7 linked regions of the Homo sapiens genome follow. The protein of the gene in region 1 purifies or fractionates together with the protein of each later gene. This does not show direct contact. Each region holds a gene or a part of one and is shown on either strand. Other genes may lie near its edges.

Region 1 (3,500 bases):
TCTCCCTGACAGCTTACATTCCAAGTCATTCCATACCATACCGCTCCACTCCACAGTTTTATAAACCTGATCTTAAGATGTAACTAGGTACTATGTGTGCTCACAATAAAAACTAACTAAAAACAAATCAGAGGGTAGCAGACAAGTAAACAAAGTTTCCAGTAAGGCATCAGGAGATCACTGCTGGTGGGCCCCTCACTTTACCAGCTTAAAGAAGTTTTGATTTTTATTTCTCAGCAAACTCAATATTCAGAAGCTTTACCAGCAGACTCAAGTCAAAGGTTTTAAATACAGTTTACCTCATTTTTTTTTTTTGGTAAATATTTCATATAAAACATGAACTCAAGTTCTACTTCATTTAAAAAACTGAATATTTTAATAGTAAAAATATATGTTTATATTTCTCTTTTTAAAAAGACATTTAATAACAATACTTCATAAGACTGGATTTAACTCCCCCTCCCACTCTTCCCCCCACCCCCCACCACAAGTTGTCCAGGCAGAGATACATTAAGGCAAAGGCTCCTGGAGAGGTACGTCCACCTTGGCTGTGGGCTGGAGACTCAAGGTGAACACACTCTGCTCCTTGCAGGGTCAACAGAAAGGCTTCTCCCTCATGTTCACTGAGCCATCCTGCATCCCAAAGTAGACTCTCTCAGCCATGTTGATGAATAGGCCTGTGTCCACCACACCTGCAGGACAAAGGACAGAAAGAAACATTGTTTCAGCCTCCCAAAGCAAAAAGAGACTCAAAGACTGCAGGGTCACTAGAAGCAACTGTCATACACAGCATTGGACGAATGACAAATCTAAAGCCTTTTTCTCCCACAGAGCAATGAAAAGAGATTCTGATTATCTTAATTTCTTCTTGCCACCTCTTTCTCCCCTCCCACTTTGGCCTTCTTTCTGTACCCAAACATGCTAAGCTTTGTCCTGCCCTGAGGCCTTTGTTCATGCTGTTCCCTCTGCCTGAGCCAGTCATTGTCAAGCACTTCAAGGGGCTGGCTCAGCTCTGTCCTTCAGACATATCAGATGGCAAGTCATCCTCTAGAGACCCTCCATGACTACTCCAGCCAAGGAGCCCCACTACCAGTTATTTTCAATCATACCACCAGCCTTGAAAGATTTCCTCGGAATGGGAGGAGATATTTGCAAAGCATATACCTGACAAAGGACTCATATCAAAAATATAAACAATTTATAAATCATCAAGAAAAAGACAGAATCCCCATAGAAAAATGGGCAAAAGACTTGAAGAAGTACCTCACAAAAGAAGCTACCCAAAATGGCCAATAAACATTTTAAAAGATGCTCAAAATCATTCACTGAAAGGAAATACAAATTAATATTACAAGATATCACTACACACACACTGAAGTCAGTGTAATGAAATTCTGCTGGGATGCAAAGACACTCATACGCATTGATGGTGAAAGCTGAGCTGGCAAAAGCACTTTGGAAATGTTCATCTTCCAAGCTGATGGATTCACACCTAACCACTCAGCAATTCTACTCCTAGATATACAACTGTTAGGCATACATTTGGTCATCAAAAGACATGTGTAAGATGTTGATAGTGGCACTTTTCCTATTAGCTAAAAACTGATAATACCCAAATGTCCATCAAGAGTAGAATAGAGGCTGGGTATGGTGGCTCATGCCTATAATCCCAGCACTTTGGGAATGAAGCCCAGGAGTTCAATGGAGCTCCAGATGGAGCTGATGGAGCCCAGGAGTTCGAGACCAGCCTGGGAAACATAACATAGAGATGGCAGCTCTACAAAAAATACAAAAATTAGCCAAGCATGCTGGCACATGCCTGCAGTCCCAGCTACTCAGGAGGCTGAGGTGGGAGAATCGCCTGAGCCCAGGAGCAGAGGTTGCAGTGAGCCATGATTATGCCACTGTACTACAGCCTGGGTGACAGAGCAAGATCCTGTCTCCAAAAAAAGAAAGAAAGAGAAAAAACTAAAAGAGTAGAATAGATATAAACTTTTTTTCACACACATACAGATGATGGAATATGATTCAGCAGTGAAAATTAACAACTACACACAACCTTTACCAAGAATATTTACATATACTCACACATACTTCAATGACATAACACTTTAACTGTAAGAGAAAAGGTATAATGGACCAGGTATGCAGGGAAACAGATACCTGCACACACTGTTGGTAGAAGGCTAAGTGAATACAAGCTACAGACGGCAATCTGAAACCATCTAACAAAAATCACAGACACATTAATCCTTTCATCCAGTGATTCCCTGCTAGCAAAAATCTGCAAACATAAATGACCACTAGTGGTGATCCAGTTAAGTCATAATGTTACATAGGTAAAGTGGAATACATGCAGGTATTCAGAAAAAAAAGGAACAAGGAAGCTCTTTTATAAGCCAATGTGTAATAATCTCCAAGACAGGCAAGGCAGGAAACAGAACATGTATAAAGCAGGCTACCGCTAGTGTAAAAAGGGGTGGGGCGGGAGGAGTTGCAATTTGTGTGTTTATGAAAGTCTATCTCAAAGGCCACACAATTTTGGTAACACTGGCTGCCTCCAGATAGGGTAACTAGTTGGTTGGAAAAGTGGCAAAGAGGACTTGCCACTGTTTAACTCATAATTTTAAACTACACAAATTCAAAAGGATAAATACAATGAAAACTTGCAGGAAAATGGCAATAGAAGACAGGATTAATGTGCAGCACCCACTTGGACAGACAGAACAGTGTGTGGAGACACACATTGTGAACTTTTGCTCCAAGAACCACCACAGGAACATACCAGGAAAACCAAAAGAATTCACAGACCCTTTGAAAGAAGTGGCTTGCTGCTGCAAACTCCATAAGACAGCCAAAAAACTGTGAGTTCCCAAAGTGTGAGAGGGGGAAAAGTCTGCCTCTGAACATACATCCCCACCGGGGAACCTGAAAAATCCAGATCACAGGAGACGGATTTAATCTTACCTAGAGCTGAAATGGATTTAGAGAGCTGAGCAAACTATAAAAGTAGAAGCAGCAGCAGGAAGAGCCCTGTAGACACTTCCAGTCCCCAGCTTGAGCCCAGGGAAGCCATCCCTGGCTTTATCTCACAGGGGTCCTTCGGGAAAAAAAGGCAGCCAGCAGAACTGGGGAGGGGCCACAGGATGAAGGAAGCTTCTAGCTGAACTTCGTAATAATTTCAACTGAGCACAAATTTTCCTGAGCAGAATCCGGTGGGGGACAAATGGGAAGTGCAGATACAAATGAAGAACCCACAGCCGAAGGTGCAGGCAGGCAGGGAGGGGCGAGGCCTGAGAGGCCTGCTTGCTTTCTCAGTAGGGAGGCCTGTAGTCTGGGGCAAGATCTCAGCCCTGCTCACCATGGTGGGGCATGGCGGGAGTGAAACTGGCCTTGCTGGCTGTGTGGCAGCTGGGTGGGGGTCTGTCACTGCCGGCTTTCTCCTACTTCCCTGGCAGCCTGTATGACGCAGAAGAGGCAGCCATAATCCCCCTGGGAAC
Region 2 (3,500 bases), about 120 Mb from region 1:
ATCGTAATTTACTTCATTTCATCTTCACGACAGCCTTACAAAGTAGATGCTATTATTATCCCCTTTGAAGAGCACAAGATAAATAAAATCCTTAAGTAACTCAGTTAATAATTTGTGGAAGTGGATTCAAATTAAGTCTACCAGCCAGGCACAGTGGCTCACGCCTGTAACCCCAATACTTTGGGAGGCTGAGGCGGGCAGATCACTTGAGGTCAGGAGTTCAAGACCAGCCTGGCCAACATAGTGAAACCCTGTCTCTACTAAAAATACAAAAATTAGCTGGGAGTGGTGGCATGCACCTGTAATCCCAGCTTCTAGGCAGGCTGAGGCAGGAGAATCGTTTGAATCTGGGAGGTGGAGGGTGCAGTGAGCCAAGATCGTGCCACTGTATTCCAGCCTGGGCGACAAAGCGAGACTTACCTCAAAAACGAAAACAAAAACAAAAACAAATCAAGTCTACCAGACCCACGGTACTTATCCTTTACCCTACTCCAGTTAATCTTTTTGTTCTATCACTAGTTCACTTAAATCTTTAACAAAACCGGGGCCGGGCATGGTGGCTCACACCTGTAATCCCAGCACTTTGGGAGAACAAGGTGGCAGATCACAAGGGCAGGTGTTCAAGACCAGCCTGGCCAACATGGTGAAACTCCGTCTCTACTAAAAATATAAAAATTAGCTGGGTGTGGTGGCGTGCGTCTATAATCCCAGATACTCAGGAGGCTGAGGCAGGAAGATCGCTTGTACCCAGGAGGTGGAGACTGTAGTGAGCTGAGATCACGCCACTGCACTCCAGCCTGGGCAACAGAGCAAGACTCCATCTCAAAAAAAAAAAAAAAAAAAAACAAAAACAAACAAAAAAAATCCCCTATATGCAAGTACCATACTAGGTGCTTCAGAATACTGTTTTGTAAAGGAAATACGCTACAGTTCCTATGACAGAGATTGACAGCTAATGAATGACTCACCAGAATTCACAACCCTACTGCTATCGTATAGTTGTCAGTGGGATGTCAACTCAGTCAAACCTTTTCATTCCCAGTTCCCTTTATATTCAAGTGGCCCATGTGACTTTACATCCCAGTTCCCAGTTCCCTTTACATCCAAGTGGCTCATGTGACTCTCACCACCAGACTGTGAGTGCAAGTAGTGTGTCACTGCAGAGCTCAGAAGGTTAAGGAGAATTCCTTTCCTATTGCCACTTTACCCTTCTGCCAACAAAGCCCTTACAGAATGGAAGAGCCACAGAATGGAATAACACTCACACTGAACTCTTTTATGAATGAGAAACTAGAATGCTAAGCTACTGAAATCTGGGCTTTGTTAAAGCAGCAGGTATTATCCTATATGAGGATTACAAGAAAAGCTATACAATAACAGGCAGGTAACGTGATTATAGATAAAACATACATAAAATAAGAGCAAGTATTAGAGAACGTTAAGAAAGAAGTTCATGAGATTTACAAAATAGGATTTATAAAGATGGGAAAAGAAACAAAGGCTGAAAATGAAGCAAAAGCAGAAATAAGCAAGTTACAGTCAAAGACGTGGAGAGTGGTATTGACCAACTTTGGCTAGTGTAAAAAAAAGATGGGAGGTTGGTAGTATCACATTAAAGGTGTCAAATGCCAAGCTCAGTGTCTGGACTTTTGTCCTGCTGTAAATATGAAGTAAGATCTTAAAGTGAGAAATATTAATAAATAAGATAGGATGGGAAATAAATTACAAGAGGGTAGGTGACTGCAATTGCCACTTGGTAAGTGGCAAGGAACACTAAGAATGACAAGACAGGCAAAACTGATTGGATCTGTTAAATGATTAGGTGTGTGGGAGGGGAGTTAAAATACAAACTATGTTTAAGGTCTCACAGTTAGATGACAGGTAGAATGAGTGCTAATAAAAACCAAACTTATATGTGGGCCACACACAGTTCTAAAGACTTTCTGTATATTAAATCATTAAAACCTCACAACAACCCTATGAGGTAGGTACTTTTATTAACTGTATTTTACAGATGAGGAACAGAGGCCCAAGGTCACACAACCAGTAAGTGCTGGAGGCAGGAATTAAACATAGGCACTATGGCTACAAAGTCCAGACTCTTAACTACTATGCTCATCTGTCCCTATAATGACAACAAACGAAACAAACAAGGGGAAAAAGTCTAGCGGAGAAGAGATTCAAGAGAGAGAGGTAAGGATTCAGGACACATCTGAGAGGGACACATAAGGTGGATGGGAACAGACACTTTCACTCAATAACACCTTGGTCTTTGGAGGTTTAATTTCTATCATTAAAAAAGTGATTCTAACATTTGCCTGAGCAATGATTGTCAGGGCTGTGGATAAGATGCATGTGTTTACTTAGAACTTGAAATAAGGGTCACAGAAGCAGGCAGTAAGGCCTATTGAATGTTTTACAATTCTGGAATTAAAGATCTGAATTTCACATACTGTTCTTTTAATTTGCTGTGTAGTCTGGGAAATAGTTTCGTTGTCTTAACAGTAGGTTTCATTTATTATGAAAATAAAAGTATAATAACCACCTCCCGAGTAAATAAAAGAACCAAAAAAAATACACTTTTACTTTTTTGGGAAAACCTAAACAAAACGTATAAAAATACTAACCCCAAAGTTACGTGACTTAATTTGTGCTTTTGAAAATCAATTCAATGCACTAGGTTCACGAAGTATATTGGAAGAACAAGAATGCATCAGTAGTCTCAAAAAAAAACCCAAAGGCTACGCTAAGCCATAACAAAAAGGGGCTACAATCCTAAGCACGAAGTCAGGGTGTCCCAAATTTGCCAAACAGTAACCATGAGAGCAGTTCTAATGTATTTACAGTCTCTACCTCAGCCTACTGACTCCAAAGAGGACCGGGAATCTGAATTTTGAACAAATGCCAGAGGGAGTTAACAGACCAGCTTGGAAAACACTTAATTATTTCACTTAACAGAGAGAAACTTCACTAAAAAGTCTGCTTCATCATTATCTTATTCTGCCTCTTTTTCCTTTAAGTTATTTCCTGGAGTTAGTTAAGTGTGAAAGAAATAAAATAAAATAAAAAGGTATCCCTTTCTTCCAGGGACTTACTGGAATTACACTATAATTTTTTGTAATACAAGGATACAATTTTCTCTCTCATGTTCCATCATCACTCCTAAGCTTTACTTACGTAATTCTAACACAATCTACTGCAGACAGATCAAGCCATTTACCCTATCTCCCAACAAGGCAAAGATGGTAAGAGGAGGATTAGAGTTGCTATAAAAGGTACAGGACTGTAACTAGAACACAATCTTCCTGTGAATCAGGAATCACAAACTCAATGCTGCTGAGAGTTAGGTAACATCAAAGAGCAAAACAGAGCAGATAGGGAAAGGGGCCAAATGAAGTACACCCCACATGACTAAAGGTGAGGCTGCCCCTGTCAGCTCCAGCGCATGTCACCTGGTAAGACTGAGGGCCCAGTGCTAGCAAGTCTTTGAACTGTTTTTT
Region 3 (3,500 bases), about 140 Mb from region 1:
GTATTTCTCCTCACAAATGGTGAATATCAACTCCAGGATGGCTGGAGTTTTCTCATGGTTTGGTTCCACGCCATCTGCATGTCTTTACAAGTGATAAAAACCAGAATTTTCCAGCTGCTACTAGTCACAGGGGGTCCCCAATATGGGTTGTTTAATTATGATGACGGGTCCTGTCAATTGCATCCAGTAAAATTGGTCACATAGAGAACTCATCTAAAACTGAGGTTTTGTTGTGGTTTTGAAAGGTCCATTGGAATCCAGATTTGCAAAGCATGTCAAGTTATGGCAAAACATATGCCACCCATCTCAAAATCTTTCCTTATTATTGCATAACTTTGAAAGCCACTGTTGCGTTTGTTGCGATGAGGTTAGAGTTTTGTTGACATGATGATATTACTCTCTTCCTCTGGGTGAGACACATCTGGATTCTCACTTGGAGCAGGGCTCTGTACATCCTTCTGGGATTTGGTTGAGTAGGTAATATACATGCTTCTCATTAGGAAAATTCCAGCAATTACTGCAAAATAGCTCCCATAAACTAAAAACTGGAGAAAAACAAATAATTAGCCACATATAAAATATGACCATCTATGTCAATGATAATACATCCTAATACTGTTGGTTTGCTTGGATTATGGGGTAACTGAGACCCAGGTTTTTAATATGGGTCATTTAGGTTGAACAATACTCTCCTATCAAGTAAGAAATCAAGATCAAGTAAGAAGGTGTAAGCAATACGGTGACTAAGAGTCTTGGCTTTAGAGCAGGTTGCTTGGGTTAAAATCATAGTTACTATCATCAATAGTAAAAAACAAAACAAAACAAACCCAAAAAAACACTAAAACTCATTGACCTGTCTCTATGTCTTTGTTTGGAGGCTGGTGCAATGCTACATTCAATGTCTCCAAGAATAAATTTAAGCATTGAGGTTACTTCTTACCTGCCTTATCCATGTAAATGTTGTCCTAGTTGCAATTATTGCTCAAAACCTACTTGGTGTGTTATAATATGATAATGAAGGAATTATGTATTTTTTAATTGCTTAACCAAGGAACTCAAGAAATTTAAATATTGCTTGTTGTAAGGTTGAGAAATTTTTGAGGTTACCTAGTTGAAAACAGAAGTATTGCAGCTTACCTGAATGCTGACTGGCAAGTTGAGCCCTCTCTGATCTACTACAATCACAGTCATGATGGTCTGAATCACCAAGGCAATAAAGGTGTTGATTCCAAATACCAAGGCATAGCGTTCCACATTCAGATTAACTGCAATCTGAAATCTATCATTAAACATAAATAAGCATTTTAACTATAATATACATGGATGGAAGTCTTAAAAAGATAGAACATATTGGCCACAGGGGTATTTGTGTCACCCACCTCCAGCTCCAGGTAGTCCAGCAAAGAGAGAGAGAGACTGTCTGGAAGAAAGTAAAGGAAAAGAACAAGTGTCTCTGTCTGGTAATCCAGAGAATTCTTCTGGATCTTATCCAAGACCACCAAAGCAGTAGCTCTAAGAGTCTGCTAGAACCACAGTGTTACTGGGCTTGGGGTGCTCCCTAATGTAGATACAGTTTAGATCACAACACCCAAATCCTTCTGAATACCTGGAAAGCCTTCCCACGGAGGACAGGTACAAAAAAGCCCAGACAGCAAAGACTACAATAAATACAACTCTTCAATACCCTGACACTGATGAACATCCATAAGCATCAAGATCATCCAGGAAAACGTTCTCACCAAACAAACTAAATAAGGCACCAGGGACCAATCCTGGAGAAACATATACGACCTTTTAGACACAGAATTCAAAATAGCTGTGTTAAGAAAACGCAAAGAAATTCAAGATAACACAAAGAAGGAATTCAGAATTCTGTCAGATAAATTTAATAAAGAGATTGAAATAATTAAAAAGAATCAAGCAGAAATGCTGTGGTTGAAAAATGCAATTGACATACTGAGAATGCATCAGAATCTCATACCAGCAGAACTGATCAAGCAGAAGAAATAATTAGCAAGCTTGAAGACAAGCTATTTAAAAATACAGTCAGGAGACAACAGAAAAAAGAAGAATGAGGCACACCTACAATACCTAGAAAACAGCCTCAAAAAGGAAAATCTAAGTTATTGGCCTTAAAGAGGAGGTAAAGAAATAGATAGAGGTAGAAAGTTTATTCAAAGGGATAATATCAGAGAGCTTCCCAAACCTAAAGAGATCAATATCCAAGGACAAGGTTACAGAACACCAAGCAGATTTAACCCAAAGAAGACTACTTAGAGGTATTTAATAATCAAACTCCCAAAGGTTAAGGATAAAGAAAGGATTCTAAAAGGAGCAAGAGAAAGGAAATAAATAACATACAAGAGAGCTCCAATGTCTGGCAGCAGTCTTTTCAGTAGAAATTTTAGAACCAGGGAGTGGCATGACATATTTAAAGTGCTGAAGGAGAAAAACTTTTACCCTAGAATAGTATATCCAGTGAAAATATCAAACCCGAAGGAGAAATAAAGACCATCCCAGACAAATAGAAGCTGAGGGATTTCATCAACACCAGACCTGTCCTACAAGAAATGCTGAAGGGAGTACTTCCATCTCTAAGAAAAGGACGTTCATGCGCAATAAGAAAACATGTAAAGGCACAAAACTCACTTGTAATAATAGGTACATAGAACAACACAGAATATTATCACACTGTAACTGGGGTATGTAAACTACTCTCATAAGTAGAAAGACTAAAAGATGAACCAATCAAAAATAGTAACTACAAATTTTCAAGACAAATAGTACAATAAGATATAAAGAGAAACAACAAAAAGTTAAAAAGCAGGAGGACAAAGCTACACTGTAGAGTTTTTATTAGTTTTCTTTTTGCTTGTTTGTTTATGCAAATAGTCTTAAGTTGTTATCAGCTTAAAATAATGGGTTATAAGATAGTATTGCAAGCCTCATGGTAATCTCAAATTGAAAAACATGCAATGGATACCCAAAAAGTAAAAAAGAAATTAAATTATATCACCAGAGAAAATCACCTTCACTAAAAGGAAGAAAGAAAAGGAAAAACACTGCAAAACCAGAAAAGAAATAACAAAATAACAGGAGTAAGTCCTTACTTATCAATCTAAACTCTTCAAAAGAGAGTGGTTGAATGGATTTTTAAAAAGACCCAATGACCTGTTGCCTACAAGAAAGACATTTTACCTATAGAGACATACATAGACTGAAAATGAAGGGATGGACAAAGATATGCCATGCCAATGGAAACAAACAAAAAAAGAGGACTTGTAGCTATACATATAGCAGAGAAAATACATTTCAAGACAGAAACTGTAAGAGACACAGGTCATTAAACAATGATAAAAGGGTCAATTCAGCAAGAGAATATAAAAATTGTAAATACGGCCAGGCGCGGTGGCTCATGCCTGTAATCCCAGCACTTTGGGAGGCCGAGGTGGGCAGATCATGAGGTCAGGAGATCAAGGCCATCCTGGCTAACACGATGA
Region 4 (3,500 bases), on another chromosome or scaffold:
ACCACCATGACTGCCTAATTTTTACATTTTTTGTAGAGACAGGATTTCACTATGTTTCCCAGACTGGTCTCAAACTCCTGGGCTCAAGCAATCTTCTTGCCTTGGCCTCCCTATTACTGTTCTTTATTTTATTTTATTTTTTTAAGATGGAGTCTCTCTGTTGCCCAGGCTGGAGTACAGTGGCACAATCTCAGCTGACTGCAACCTTTGCCTCCCAAGCAATTCTCCTGCCTCAGCCCCCACAAGTAGCTGGGATTACAGGCGCCCGCCACCATGCCTGGCTAAATTTTGTATTTTTAGTAGAGATAGGGTTTCACCATGTTGGCCAGGCTGGTCTTGAACTCCTGACCTCAAATGATCCACCTGTCTCGGCCTCCCAAAGTGCTGGGATTACAGGTGTGAGCCATAGCGCCCAGCCTATCACTGTTTTTTAATTATGCATTTTGTGTAGTCATTAGTCAGTTGTTTATAAGTAATGGTAAAATGCAAAAAAGTTGTAAGTTCCCATTTATATTTATATAATCTGATGAGATAAGTGATTTAGAATATATGAAAGAAAGGAACAGAATATAAGTTCATCTTTTTAAATCACTGTATATGTTTCAAAACATTTATAAAAATAATTTCGTAGATACAGTGACAAGACTAATCAGACTTTTTAAGTTTGTGTACTAGGCAAGGGAGGAAGACATTAGGCAATTTTCTGCATATAAATCTTGATTATATATAATTTTGAAGACTAGAAGCAAATTGGGGGCCCTTTAAGACAACTGAAAAAGGCTAGGATTAGGATAAGTAACAGTTTTTCTCATTTGTGGGTAAAGGAATGACAGGAGCCCAAATCCAAGGAAACCTATATGTACTGGCTATTTCACCCTTTCAGGCTTTTAGATTACTTATTATATGGGTTTGGGCAGGATGGAGTTTCGTTTCCTTCCCTTCCCTTCCCTTCAGAATGAATTTGCTTAATGGGCATGGGAACCTGGCCAAAATTGTCGAGATAGCTGCTACTGTTTGAATCCTTTAAAAGTCTTATGACCAAAGTATTAGGGAACAAAGACTTGGACATTCAACACAGGTGTTGTTTCAGCTAAGTTTTTGTGTGATGAAATTTTTATGTGTTGTTTATAGGATGGAATTTGAGAATAAAGAGACTGTATTACTCTTTAGCATTATATTTTTAAAACCATCAGTTGCAAGTAAAATAACTCAGCTTTCTTTTCATCATCTAGCCAAATTTATAAGGAAAAATGATTCCCAATGGATATTTGATGTTTGAGGATGAAAATTTTATTGAGTCTTCTGTTGCCAAATTAAATGCCCTGAGGAAAAGTGGCCAGTTCTGTGATGTTCGACTTCAGGTATTTAAAACTTAATTCAAAATTTATAGAATTTTTTATTACTAAAAGCCATAAGTTCTTAGATTTGCTTATTTCTTTTTCATAGGCATTTAATGAAATGATTTTTTAAAAGAATACTGAGAAATGTAAGATAAAGGAATCTGATATAGTAATTAGCTAGAGAAGCACATAATCCACAATACTTATAATTATAATTCTTCATAATTTCAGGTCTGTGGCCATGAAATGTTAGCACACAGAGCAGTGCTAGCTTGCTGCAGTCCCTATTTATTTGAAATCTTTAATAGTGATAGTGATCCTCATGGAATTTCTCACGTTAAATTTGATGATCTCAATCCAGAAGCTGTTGAAGTCTTGTTGAATTATGCCTACACTGCTCAGTAAGTACATTTGAAGTAAACCATATAATTAGGGAATATCTTCAGAAAATTCCAAGTCTTGCTACATATATTTAAATTAAGTGTGTTTTAAGGCTTTGGTATCATAAGTAACTTTTTTTTTAAATAGGTTGAAAGCAGATAAGGAATTGGTAAAAGATGTTTATTCTGCAGCAAAAAAGCTGAAGATGGATCGAGTAAAGCAGGTAGAGTATCAGAAGTAAATAAAATCATTTATGGAGTCTTATTTTGTGTGATTGCAATGCTGAATTTGTCATAAAACATCTTGTTAGTTTCAAGGACTTGAACATGTCCCTTTTTTCCCTCAGAGTAGTCAATATGTTATTTTAACTGTTTGGCTATAATAATGTAGCAAGATCACACTTCTTCTCAGATAATTTGGGCTGAAGTCTGACCCTTTCAGCAATCTTCTCTGGTAGGGTGGCTATGTCAGCCTTTGATAGCATGAATTAAAATTAATATTTTTCTTAAGAGTTAATCACATAACTTATATCCTCAATTCTGTGTTCTCCTAAACTTCCTGTGCTCTCTAAAAGTATTCCTTCTAGAATTTAATGCCAGTAAAAAGTACTTTTGGAAAACAGGCATTTAATCCCCTAATGCATGGGGGTCAGTAAACTTAAGGCCTACTGGCCAGCTGCCTATTTTTATAAAGTTTTATTCAAACACAGCCATGTGTGTTCATTTACATATGGTCTACACTGCTTTCCAGCTACAGTGACGGAATTGAGCAGTTGTGACAAACAGAATGGCCTACAAGCCTAAAATGCTTTTACTATCTGGCCCTTTAAGAAAAAGTTTGATTTGCTAGCCCTTCTTCTAATACCACTCCTTTGTTCAAAAATCCTTCCTTAATTTACAGTACATATCCCTGCATTTAGTTTCTAGATTTTCCCTTATATAGTTGCTGTCTTTCCAAAACTATTTCCTAGTTATCTTTTCTCCAACCAAATTAAATTGTTTGCAGCATCTTCTCTACTTCTGTCTGCATTCAACATCAACATCATCTCTCCTGTAGAGCCCAGTTCAGATACTGCGTTTCATGAAGCCTTACCAAATTATTCTACTTGAAAATACTTATGTGAACTTACATAGCATTTCAATTTGTTGTACCTCTCCTTAAACTAAAACTTACATATCTGTATGGCATAATTAGATGTTTATCATTTGTATACGTGTTATTACCACTATTAACATTTGTTGTATTAAGACAGTGATTTTTGATTCTTTGTATCTTCACATAGTCTTTACCACACTGAACATTAAATATTTGTTGAATAAAAGATATGTAAGTGTTGGCACTCATATATTTCTTTTCCAAGGTTTGTGGTGATTATTTACTGTCTAGAATGGATGTTACCAGCTGCATCTCTTACCGAAATTTTGCAAGTTGTATGGGAGACTCCCGTTTGTTGAATAAGGTTGATGCTTATATTCAGGAGCATTTGTTACAAATTTCTGAAGAGGAGGAGTTTCTTAAGCTTCCAAGGCTAAAGGTAAGGAGTAAAGTCTATAAACAGATATATACTATCTAGTTCCAGGCGTGGAATCTTGGTCTGTGTTTCAAGCAAGTGAGTAATGATTATGAAATAATACATTGAAATTATATTGTTATTCTTAGCAGCGTAATGGGTTTCTCCCTACCAGTTTGTTTACTTTGTTTTTGATTCAGTAATCAAATTCCTTACAAATTCCTGGTTCCTTACAAATTCCTGGTTCCTTACAAATTAGAGTAAATGTA
Region 5 (3,728 bases), on another chromosome or scaffold:
TCGGACTCCTTCCTGGCCAAATGCCTGGAGCTGGGCCCTTTGCTGCCAGCACCCCTTAAAGAAGTGGGCATGGTTGGGGAATGGAGGGCATTTCCTCTGGAAAGAAAAGGCAGAGGAACCAGTAATGGCCCAGGAGTGCTGATATCCTTACTGGGGTGCACATTTTTGTGAAATGAGACCCCTTGCCAAATAGAACTCTAAAGTTCCTTCAATTCACATGCCTAGAGAAGAAAATAATCAAACTCTTCTGTCAGGGATCACCTGGCTCCCCACATCCCCTCACTTAGGATGTTTTATTCCCACTGGAGCATGTGATTGGAAAACAAAGGTAAATAGGAGCAATTGATTCCCGGATCCTTTTTTTTCCCCAGCAGGATTAAAGCTGCCTCAGCCATAAAGAGTTTACAAACTCTAAAGAAAGATAATAACTTCCCTTCTCACGGCCCGGTCATGGGGAGGCAATGCATGTTTCCAATCAGCTGAGAATGTAACTCAAATGGTAGGTTTTATTTCACTTTAATCCGCCTGTGAGTTCACGTTAAAGGTAAGAGGAATCACAGCCCTGCAATTCAAATAGGGTTCATTAAATTCGGCATCTCCTCTTAACTGGGCTGGGTTGTTTACTCCTCCCACAGTCTTGGATGGGTTTTGAGGGTCTGGTGCGGTGTCCGGTGAACGGCTGCAATGCAGGTTAGGCTGCCACCATGAGGGAAGCTGGAGGGAGGACCTGTTAACCTCATGGTACTGTGGCGACATCAGCCACCACTACGTGTCACGGGGTGGATGCTGAGGAAGAGAAAACAGAGCAGAGCTGGAGAAGTTCGTACAGTAGATACAGTGGAAGACAGGTGGCTCAGCTGGCAGCCCACTGCAGGGGTGGTGGAGGTCGCAATGCGCTGTCCCCACCACATGGAGCTTGCTTGCCTCCGCACCTCTTTGCTGGCTGCAGCCTTGCTGCTCAGTGGGCGGTTGTGGAAAGAATCGGTTCTCAGTTCCCATTCCAGCTCTGCTATTTAGACACCGGGAGACCTGGAAACAGCCCCTTGACAAAGTCTTGCTCTACACGTTTCTGTAGTGACCGTCCATTTGAAGGGATAGGGAAATATTCCCTCAGTGTCCTGCTGTGAAACTGTTAAAGCCACCCATCCTATGAAACTCACTCCTTTGGGTTAAGCATCACGTTCTCAGTCCTTTCCTGTGTGGATGGAGTGTTGGCACAGTGAGGCGGGTGTTGCAAGTGGACGCGTCGGGGGTGGTCTGCACGGGCTGGCCTGCATAGCCCAGGGGTGGAGAGAGGGGTCAGACTAGAACCTATGGAGACTTGGTGGGCAACAGGCCTGGGCTCAGTCCAGCCAGCCCAACCTCTGATTGCTATCCTCAGAGCCCCTCCAGGGTCTCCTTGGCAGGGGCTGTCCCCTATGAGCCTCTGCAGGGGACAGGAAGTGCTGACTGAGAACTGTCTCTCTGTGACATGCACCCTGTCAAATCCATAAACCTTCCTCAGCAGTCACCACACAGAATCCCAAAACCCCAGGGTTCTGCTTGAGTTAGAGCTACAAAGTCTCAAGGACTAGAAGGAAGCACCAGCCTTGTTCTGCCCCAGCTAGAGGGTCTGCGCTGCCCCAGCCAGAGGGTCTGTGCTGTCCCTGCTGAGGCCTACAGGAGGCAGAGACATTCACCTCCACTTCCTGTCTGCCCATGGCTTCGCGGCCTTCTCACCCCAGCTGGCCAACTGGCTTCCCACCACTATGGGCCTCGCACTGCCCATGCCGGGCCTGAGGGGCCTGGCTCAGACTTTAGTATCCAAGGGGACTGCTGCCTTGACCACCAGAGCCCCCCCGTCTGTGCATCTGTCCTCTGTTCAGCTCTGGAAAGGCCACCGGGAACACAAGAGCCAACAACCCATGGCCTTTGTCTGCAAGGAACTTGAGGTCTCACCGGGCAGACAGGCACGGAGTGAGTGCTCCACCATGGGCCTCCCTTCCTCCAGGTTGCATCCAGGACTATGCTGTCTAGCGTGTCTGCTGTGACTTCCTCATGGCAGAGCCCCACACTGTGGCTGTTTATGGAGCATTTGCAAGTCTCCCTCGAGGGGAGCCCGTGTCTCTCACGGACAGCTTGGCAAGATTCACATTCTTGGAAAAGCAGAGGAATGCGAGGGTTAAAATACCTTAAAGGGCAAGGAGATGATTTCTAGATTTCCAGACAATGTCTCAGAGAATTGTAGTGCTCTGGGGTATGCCTGAATGTAACTAATGTAGCTCCTTTTGTGCCTGAGTGTAGACTGGGTCCATGTGCCTACATGCATTCAGTTCCTCCCACCAAACTGGACAGTGATAGCTAACCCTGTTGACCCTTATGTCTGGGTGCCTTAAATTTGTGATGCCTCAAACTGACCTTCACAATGACTCTAAGGAGGTAAGTACTGTGAACTTTCCCGTTTTCTACAAGAAGAAACTGTGGCACGGAGAGATTCAGTTACTTGTCCAGGATCACAGAACTATAGTAAGTGGGGGTGGGGACAAGAATTCTAACCCAGGCAGCAGTCTGACCAGAGGGCCCTAGCTGGGAGCAGCGTTCATGTGCACTGTATGTTCGTGTTTAGTGTATGTCTGTGCATACTTGCGTGTGTGCACACGCACACATGTTCACTCAGGCACGTGGGCTGCCCTGCGGTGGGAGCTGAGAGAATGCAGTGGAGGTTGTTGGGAGGAACTCACCCGCCTGCTCTGGCTGTCTGAGCAGGTGAGGGATAGTGATATCAAGTGCGAAGACCAGGCCCTGAAGCCAGCCTGACGGTTCCAGCTGTTAGGAGAAAGTGAAGGTGGGTGCCATGGATCTGATGATTTCAGTGATTTTCTACTCAAGAAAAATGAAGTCTCGGATGGGCAGAGCTTAACTGCCTTAAAAACTTGGTACAGGGCAAGGTGTGAGTTTCCCGGTGAGACTGTGTGAACTGTGAACGGGTAGAGTCTGAAACTACAAACCAGATGTTTCCGGGCTCCCTCCCGCCTGGTCTGGCCTGTCTTCCTTCTGCTGCTATGCAGTTCATCCTGGGTCCCTGAGGGCCTCGCAGATGCTTCACTCGAAAGATTGGAGTTGCAGAGTCCCCTGTGGAGGAATTGAACTGCCCCCTCTCGCAGGACCCCAGCTGGCAAGGTTTTGTTCCTCCCTGGAGGGTAGAGACCCTCACTGAGGCCCTGGAGAGGGGCACTCAGGGGCAGCAGCTCATTCCCAAAGTTCTCTGGTGGAGCTGGGGAGTGGCACCCTGGGAACTCTGGGGTTTCCCCACCAGCTCCTCTCTCCAGTCTTTGGTGTCCAGGTACAGTCTCCAGGCCGTGGCTTCTCGAGTTCTGTATGTGGGTTGCTGCTCCGTAATGCATAGTTGGGGGACCATTTTGGTCAGTGACAGATCACTGCTGCTTTTCATCAGACCAAAATACATGTGGCTTCTTCTCCTTGCCAGCCCTACCAGGGCATCTCCCATTATACTAACCCTGCCTATTGGACCTTCTGATGCAAGGAGCAGATTAAAATCCCCTCCCTGTTGCCTACCAGGTCCGTGGCTACAACTAAATCCCTAGTTGGGGAATCACAGAGCACAGGTAAGCCCTTGGGTTCTGGAGCCAGCTTACTGGGGTGTGAGTCTTCCTTAGCTCCGTGTGGATGGTGAGCCCTCCTCTCTCAGGTCTCATGATAGTAGCTAACCCTTATTAAGTGTGTGCTGG
Region 6 (4,042 bases), on another chromosome or scaffold:
CTCTACAAAAAATAAAAATTAGCAGGGCGGGGTGATCCACGCCTGTACTTCCAGCTACTCAGGAGGCTAAAGAAGTCAAGGCAGCAGTGAGCTGTGATCACACCACTGCACTCCAGCTTGGGTGACAGAGCAAGATCCTGTCTCAAAAAAATAATATAAATTAAAAATTAAATAAAATATTGTGTATAAAAAATAATTAAAATAACCCAAATGCTTTCATAGCTTTTAGGCCCCTCTCCAGTTTCTATCATGCAAAAACGCCGTTTTAGAAAATCCTGATAACTGAAATGTACCAGAAACAGGAATCAAAACCAGCTCTTGCCCAACTTTTAATTTATGAACTAAGATACACACAGCCAAGGCCCAATCAATGTACAAAGTAAGCCTTTCCTCCCAAGGGAAAGGTGGTTCAGTGGTAGGCTATGGAAAATAAGACTCCTACTTATTTCCAGGTGGGCCTCTTAGAAATATGCATAATAAAGTAGGTGATATAAGGTATTTCCCCATATTTAATATCTCTTTACTTAAAATGTTTATGATCACTGGCATGTTATGGTTTGTCAGGACTTTCTTCCTCAGGGGTACATACAATAATCATAGATTTGATGAAATATATTAATTCTCCAGATGTTCCTCTTGAAAATGCTTCCAATTCAGTCCACAACTAATTGTTAACATAGTTTTTAAAATGTTTAATTATGCTATAAAACATAAAGAACCTTGAAATAAAATTAATTCACCCTAGGCTCAAATATAGCAAACTGATAAGATTATCTTTGTCATTCCAACTAGAGCAAAACAAAGAAAAAATACCAGTTAGGAAAAAGAAAAATCCTCTTATATACTCTGGAAACAAATCTTATACTTTTCTGTCACTTAGTTTTGTGAAAATACTCCTCTCAAATGCACTATATATTTTTCAAAGCCCATAAATTAAATTTCAGTCCTTCTAACACCAGTTATTTCATCTATCAGCATAAAGATGAATCTTTCCAATGAGTTGTAAGACTCAAAACTAGGCAGAAAAATGCTTTGCAAGTCGACTAGTAATCGGGAAAGAGCTGGACAATGGGGTTTACATTTGCTCCTTAGGTCAGAAACTAAAGGTTTGTGTGTCTTAACAGCTCCCTGGACCTAAGCACCACTGGTGCCTTGGTTTAAAAGAGTTAAAATCAGCTACCTTATAATCTTTTACTCATTGTTCGACAAATACTTTTTGAATGATTACCGGGTGCTAAGCAACCATTCAAGAGGACCTCCTAAGATGTGACCCTTGAGCAGCACCTTTTAAAAAGAATGTTAAAATTCTGCCTGAACAAGGCACTACTATCTGACGTAGAGCACCAAATCCACCTCGAAGTATACAATCCCACCCCCCGAATGAAATTTAATTAAGTTTTTTCCTAAAGCTAGGCCCTCAACAGCGTACAGAGGAGGTGTATCTTAATGAAGTAAATCGCAATTCAAAACTGCACGGTTTCCCGCTGGCAAAACTGACTTAGTGAAGGTCAGAAAGAACTCCAGGCCAATGAAAATTTTAATACAGAGGTGAAAGCGAAGGTGCCCAATTCAAAAGCGGGACGAAAGTAAGAGGAACGGTCTAAGAAAAGTGAGTTGGAGGAGAGATGAGCAGCAGCGGTCAAACGTGCTCTCCCCGCCGGGTACGTCAAGGCGGCAACTTTTCCAGCACTCCGGAACTCCGGACTGCCCAGGCCTCGGGCGAGCTGGCACGGCTCGCGTCCCGGGGAGGGACCCCAAAGGCGGGGAAGCGGGTTACCCCGCAAACCAGCAAGCTCGACAGGGAGCAAGCTGGACGGGGGCGGGACCTGGACACACACCCTTTCCTCTCTGAGAAGGAAGCGGGGAGGGAGAACGGAGTGCGCGACCCTGGGGCCACCAGCCCTCACGCGGGCCTGCAGGGGCGTTGGGGGAGGGGGAAGACAGTGCAGCTCCGAGGGGTTCGTCCAGAACCGGCCTAACCGCCGCGGAGCCCAAGGCTGGCGGGGGGAATGGAGCGGGCCTCGCCGAGGGCAGGCGGGAAACGGGGTGGCGGGAAGACCAGAGGCCGGCCCAGCTCCAACGCCGCACAGGAGGCCCCGACCCTGCCCTGCCTTCGGCGGGCCCCGGGATCGCCACAACGGGCCCCCAGCCTCCCAGAGGGACGGGGTGGGAGCCGAGGAAGCCCCCACCCCGACACGCAGACACACAAGCCCGCTCGCCGCCCTACCCCCACCCTCGCGCCGCGCTCGCGGGCTCTGCGCCCCACAGCGGCGCGGGGGAGGCGGGGGCCAGCGACGCGGCCGCGGGGAGCTGATGCCCTCCCCGACGCCCGGACCTCGACACGCAGACAAGATCAACAAAGCATCGCCGCTCCCGAGATAAAACATGCCACAGGCCCCGACCAGGGACTCTACGACGCGTGGCTGCCCGGGGCGCAGGGCTGCGCGGACGGGCTGGGGGAAGGGGGTGGGGAAGGGCCTCGCGGGGTGGCTCCCCGGTCCGGGAGCCTCGCCTCCGCCGGGATGCGGTGCTGCAGGGACCCCCACGCTGACCTTGGAGTCTCCGTTGCACAGAGCCATCGGGGCCAGGGCCGGAGCCGCGGCGGTGACGGCGACAGTACGAGACGGGGCGGGAGGGTGCCGGAAGGGTCGGCGCCGCGGGCTGAGGTTGAGAAGGAGGCCTGGTCGAGGAGCAGCCGGCAGCGGAGAGGAGCCAGCCGCCAGAAAAGCGCCGAATGGAGCAACAGCAGCGGAGCGCGGGCCCCAGCGCCGCGGGAGAGAAGACCAGCAGCGCGCACGCTGCCCCCGCCTCCTGCTTCCGCCCCGGCCGGCCACTGGGAGGAGCCAGAGCCCGTTCGGCTTGGCAGCCGAGCCTCAGATACCCTCCGCAGCCGCCGCCAAACCGGCCGGCCCTCGAGAGGAGGGGCTCGCGGCGCCCGGCCCCGCCCCCAGCCCGGTCCCCGCCGGCAAAGCCGGCCGGGTCTCCCGCGGCCCGCCCTTGGGAGGAGGAGCCCGCGGCATCCACCGGCTCCGCCCCTCCTGCCCTCGCACCGAGGAGCCCGCCCCGGAGGAGGGGCCTGTGGCGCCGGCCAGGAGAAAAACCGAAGCCGAATCCGAGCTAGTTTGCTGCTGCCGGATTTGCCTGCTACCTTGGATGACTTCGGGAGGCTGGCGGCACCGAAGAGGCCTCCTGAGAGCTGGGCCCCTGGCGGAACTCTTAGCCGGTGGCGTGGCCTTATCTCAGGTTGCTGGACATGAAGGAGGCCAAGGCTGCTTTGGAAAGTTCCGTGGCCATATCTCAAGGATGTCATTGTAGGAACTGATCACTTAGATACTTCAAAAGTTATACAGCTCCCCACAAATACAGCAGGTGCAGTATTTCCAAAGAAAAGGGAGTTTGGGAGTGGTAATCTGGTGAGCAGCTGGCCCAGGGAACTGGTCGTGAAGCTCTGTTTGCACAACAGTGTTTTTATTGGAATTGTTTGTGGGGAAGGGGCTGCAGTCCCTCCACCTACCCCTTGGCAACCATCATGATGATGAGGTGTTACTTTGAATTTGGTTACCTAGAGGCCTAAATCGAGATTGGGGTATAAAGAATAATACTTGAGATGGCTTCCAGCTAACAAAGCCTTTCCACAAATATTTTTATTATAATACAGCCAACATTTTGCTGCAGTCATTCTTGTGTCAGACTGTAGCTAGGGTATTAAGGAGCCAGAGTGAGAAAATACTTTAAAAGCTAACTTTAACCAATCCCGTGAAAGTAGTAAGGTAGGATTGATGTTCTTATCCTTTTTACAAATGAGGAAATTGAGGCTTAGTGAGATAATGTGCCTCTCAGTATATATAGAATGTAAGGCCTGCCCAATCTGGGAAAGTGTAGACAGTTTATTAGTGAAATATTTACAAAAACGAAAGGCTTAAGGTCCTAGTGGGCCTGAGACTTAAGTATTTCGCTTACCTTTTTTTGAACGGAAAATTGAATATTTGAACTCTCCAAAGCCATGGATACTGGCTTCTCTGGGTAGGTCTGTATGCACAAT
Region 7 (3,500 bases), on another chromosome or scaffold:
TGGGAGGTGGATGGGTGAACAGGTTAACACCCCTTGTGATGCCTGTGGTTAGAGGATGTGGAAATCCAGGAGCAGTGCCTAACCCAGCTGGAGATTAGGTGGCCAGGGAAGGCCCTTGAGGAGGTGACGTGACAGCTGCGACCCAACGCGTACAGCAGACAGAAATGACCGCTGCTACCGCGGCTCCTCAGGAGGTTGAAAGCCTTCCTCCACCACACAGAATGTTCTGGCAGCTGAGGCTTCCTCCTGCAGCCACAGCCTGTGGCAGCCCCACCTACTACCCTCCGTCTGTTCCCAGGGGCCTGAGCAGGCTCCAGCCTGGGCTTCAGAACGGAAGTGGGAAGGGCTGACCCTGCGGGGAGCGGTTTCTGGGGACCTGGGTCCATGTGGAGGTGGAAAGTGCGGCACCCTGGGCATTCTGGGGTGGTGACCCTGTCTCCGTGCTTGAAGTTCTCTGCGTGGGTCAGAGGCCCCCTCCTTCTTAGGGAACAGAACAGTGACACTGTGACGCATGAGTCCCACGGGCTGAGGGCTCACTGCAGCTAGGCTTCCCAGGTTCCCTCTGCATCGGGCATGAGCGAGGCACTTCACACCGGCTTTCTCAGCCTCGGTGCTATTGCCATTCAAGGCCGGGTCATTCTTCGTTGACGGGGGCTGTCCCCTGCATTGCAGGATATTTACATGCCAGCAACACCCCCAACACCCAGATGTGGCAACCAAAAATGTCTCCAGATATTGCTCAGCGGGCCCTGAGGGGCAGAATGGCCCTGGGTTGAGAACCGTTGCATTTTAAATTCCCTCATTTAGTACAATCCTCCCCACTCGCCTGTGAAGGAAGATTATATGTCTCCAGTTGTTTGTTTTGGAGACAGAGGTTTTTTTTTTTTTTTTTTTTTAAAGACAGGATCCCACTCTGTTGCCCAGGCTACAGTGCAGTGGTGTAATCACATCTCACTGCAGCCTCAACCTGTAAGACTCAAGCGATTCTCCCACCTCAGCCTTGTAAGTTGCTGGGACTATGGGTGCATGCCACCATACTTGGCTAATTTTTAATTTTTTTTTTTTTTTGTAGAGACAGGGTCTCCCTAAGTTGCCCAGGCTGGTCTTGAACTCCTGGCTTGAAGTGATGCTCCCACCTTGGCCGCCCAAAGTGCTGGGATTACAGGCTTAATTGAACCATGGTGCTCGGCCTGAGACAGGGTCTCAATCTCTTGCCCAGGCAGGAGTGCAGTGGCATGATCACAGCTCACTGCAGCCTTGACCTCCTGGGCTCAAGAGATCCTCCTACCTCAGTTTCCTGAGTAGCTAAGGCTACAGGCATTCACCACTATGCCTGGCTAATTTTCAAATATTTTGTAGAGTCAGGGTCTTATTATGTTACCTAGGCTCCTGGCCTCAAGTGATCTTCCTGCCTCAGTCTCCCAAGTAGCTGAGATTGCAGGTGTGAGCCACCATACCTGGCCTGTCCGCATTTTACAGATGAAGAAATGGAGCTCACAGAGGGAGAGTAACTAGCCCCAGGTGACACAAAGAGTAACTGGTGGCTGGATGCTGAGTCCCGTGATGGCCACCGGGGCTGAAGATTCCCAGCTTGGGTGAGATGGTGTTACTCACTTTCTGAAGCTCTTCGGCAAATGTATGGCCCTTTTCTGTGACTAATTCCAGAGCAAACCTATGAAGAAAAAGGAAAAAGAATTTGCCTGTAATGTAATGTCCCTAGGCCCTGTCTTGCCATAAACAATAGATTCTCAGGTGGCAGGCCATTTAGTTAATTTAGCTATAATAGCCATGTTATTTTTCTTGCTAACAATAAGAACATTATAGCCTTCCATTTGGGGGCGGTGGTATTTGTTTCTTGAAATGCCTTTTCGGATGCTCATTATTTCCAGTCAAGAATTCCTTTTGAACAGCTACTCTGGCCAGGCCCAGGAGAGTCAGTGGTGAACAGAAGCTGACCCAGGCTCTCTCCAGCAAGTTGGTGACAGGGTGAGCAGTGACAGTCTCAAGTGCTGGATCCTGAGCTCTGACCCGCAGCCCTGTGGTGATAGGTGAGTGGGAACCAGACAGACCCAGGTGCAAATTCTGCACCGCTGCTGAGTGTCTCTGGGACTTCAGGCAAAGCTTACACCTTCATGTTCAGGAGCGTGATATTCAGGAGTGTGATAGGTAATCAGATTAGACATACTCCTGAATGTGAAGGTGCAAACTGAGATCAGTGCTCTGAAGGAAAGAGCAATAGAAGCCTAATCTGACCTTGGCTAGAGAGGCAGGGAGGGCTTCCTGGAGGAGGTGATGCTGGAGGGGAGACTTTGAAGGCTGGGGAGGACTTCCCTCATAAGGCAGAGAAAGCAAACTGCCCCCCGACACAGGTCAGGACCCTGGCTCTGCCTCCCTCAGAACCCTGCACTTCCCTCCTGCACCAGTCAGTGCCCCAGCAGGAGACAGTGGCGCGCTGCAGGGATTCCTGGAGGAGGGCTTTGGGAAGGGACAATTCACAGAGGTATGGGCAGAGTTTCAGGGAAATGCAGGAGCCTGAAGGGCAAGGGTCGGGGAAGGTACAACTCACCCTGGAGGGAGCTGAATTCTGGAGTCACTCAGCAGGGAGGGAGTTAGGTAGGGAGCCCAGCTGCCACCAGAGCCATGCACCACTGGGGAACAGGGTCACACACACTCATGAGCTCTCTGCACTCACTCTCCTATCACCTACTGGTGCCTCCCACTGGCTGGACCCACCTGAATGCCAGAAGACCAACGAATCGAGGTGGCACAGCCACCAGGTGATAAGGTCAGCCTCCCATGCATAAAGAGAAGGTGAAGAGAAGGGATTTGAAAGGGCCAATGGAGAATATCCAGCCCATCTTCCTGGCACATCTTACAGTTAGAACTAAACACACCAGTATGTGATTCCCGTCTGGTGTGTCTTCCCCTCTGGACCAAAGGGAGGGCTGTGCAGGCTGGGACACAGTCTGTCTCCATCATAGCGGATGCCCCATGCCTGCCTCACAGGAGGTGTGCAGAAGTACCTGCTTGCCGAGGGATGCCCCGTGACCAGGCCAGTGGCAGGCCCCACCCTGGGCACTTGCCCCAAGCCTGCTCCCACCCTCGTAGCTGCCCAGTGAGTGCTGCCTGCTCCCTGCACTCTGCAGCTCAGGAAGGTGGGGCTGAGGTTCTGCTCCCTGCACTCTGCAGCTCAGGAAGGCGGGGCTGAGGTTCTCTGTTGAGCAGCGCCTCGCACTGCAGATGCTTGGTCAATATCTGACCAAGGAAGAATCCACAACTGAGGTTTCTCCAACCTCCCGCTCCTCCTCAACTGAGAGACGATGGCTCGTGTTTTAGAGCTCATTAGAATAGCTGATGCGAGAACTGGCCTTTTCTCCCTTTGCCCACTTGGTCTTGTGTCTGCCCTCTTCTGGACCCCCTCCCACACACACCAAGGGGTTTGTTTGCCTTCTCTACCCGGCTGGCTGACTATCTGTACCTCCCATTATCTGTCCCGAAAA

Evidence for each region.
Region 2: the proteins of RPIA (region 1) and RPE fractionate together in Homo sapiens (co-fractionation; one large-scale study listed by BioGRID). This does not show direct contact.
Region 3: the proteins of RPIA (region 1) and SLC19A3 fractionate together in Homo sapiens (co-fractionation; one large-scale study listed by BioGRID). This does not show direct contact.
Region 4: the proteins of RPIA (region 1) and IVNS1ABP purify together in Homo sapiens (affinity purification with mass spectrometry; one large-scale study listed by BioGRID and IntAct). This does not show direct contact.
Region 5: the proteins of RPIA (region 1) and TIFAB purify together in Homo sapiens (tandem affinity purification; one large-scale study listed by IntAct). This does not show direct contact.
Region 6: the proteins of RPIA (region 1) and GMPS fractionate together in Homo sapiens (co-fractionation; one large-scale study listed by BioGRID). This does not show direct contact.
Region 7: the proteins of RPIA (region 1) and MMAB purify together in Homo sapiens (affinity purification with mass spectrometry; one large-scale study listed by BioGRID and IntAct). This does not show direct contact.

What each region holds. Positions count from the first base shown.
Region 1 is NC_000002.12:88,747,173-88,750,672, reverse strand, and holds part of RPIA (ribose-5-phosphate isomerase), read right to left. Parts: intron 693-3,500; coding exon 595-692; 3' UTR 1-594. UniProt on the Homo sapiens protein: Catalyzes the reversible conversion of ribose-5-phosphate to ribulose 5-phosphate and participates in the first step of the non-oxidative branch of the pentose phosphate pathway.
Region 2 is NC_000002.12:210,005,638-210,009,137, reverse strand, and holds part of RPE (ribulose-phosphate 3-epimerase), read right to left. Parts: intron 1-3,500. UniProt on the Homo sapiens protein: Catalyzes the reversible epimerization of D-ribulose 5-phosphate to D-xylulose 5-phosphate.
Region 3 is NC_000002.12:227,687,029-227,690,528, forward strand, and holds part of SLC19A3 (thiamine transporter 2), read right to left. Parts: intron 1,280-3,500; coding exon 1,138-1,279; intron 546-1,137; coding exon 369-545; 3' UTR 1-368. UniProt on the Homo sapiens protein: Mediates high affinity thiamine uptake, probably via a proton anti-port mechanism. Has no folate transport activity. Mediates H(+)-dependent pyridoxine transport.
Region 4 is NC_000001.11:185,307,244-185,310,743, reverse strand, and holds part of IVNS1ABP (influenza virus NS1A-binding protein), read left to right. Parts: intron 1-1,232; 5' UTR 1,233-1,250; coding exon 1,251-1,361; intron 1,362-1,571; coding exon 1,572-1,741; intron 1,742-1,868; coding exon 1,869-1,944; intron 1,945-3,081; coding exon 3,082-3,255; intron 3,256-3,500. UniProt on the Homo sapiens protein: Involved in many cell functions, including pre-mRNA splicing, the aryl hydrocarbon receptor (AHR) pathway, F-actin organization and protein ubiquitination.
Region 5 is NC_000005.10:135,443,726-135,447,453, forward strand, and holds the end of TIFAB (TRAF-interacting protein with FHA domain-containing protein B), read right to left. Parts: 3' UTR 3,384-3,728; coding exon of another isoform or gene 2,649-3,383; 3' UTR 501-2,648; downstream 1-500. Other genes in the region: DCANP1 (dendritic cell nuclear protein 1), read right to left, coding at 2,649-3,383. UniProt on the Homo sapiens protein: Inhibits TIFA-mediated TRAF6 activation possibly by inducing a conformational change in TIFA.
Region 6 is NC_000003.12:155,869,408-155,873,449, reverse strand, and holds the start of GMPS (GMP synthase [glutamine-hydrolyzing]), read right to left. Parts: upstream 2,801-4,042; 5' UTR 2,580-2,800; coding exon 2,553-2,579; intron 1-2,552. UniProt on the Homo sapiens protein: Catalyzes the conversion of xanthine monophosphate (XMP) to GMP in the presence of glutamine and ATP through an adenyl-XMP intermediate.
Region 7 is NC_000012.12:109,563,505-109,567,004, forward strand, and holds part of MMAB (corrinoid adenosyltransferase MMAB precursor), read right to left. Parts: intron 1,673-3,500; coding exon 1,615-1,672; intron 1-1,614. UniProt on the Homo sapiens protein: Converts cob(I)alamin to adenosylcobalamin (adenosylcob(III)alamin), a coenzyme for methylmalonyl-CoA mutase, therefore participates in the final step of the vitamin B12 conversion.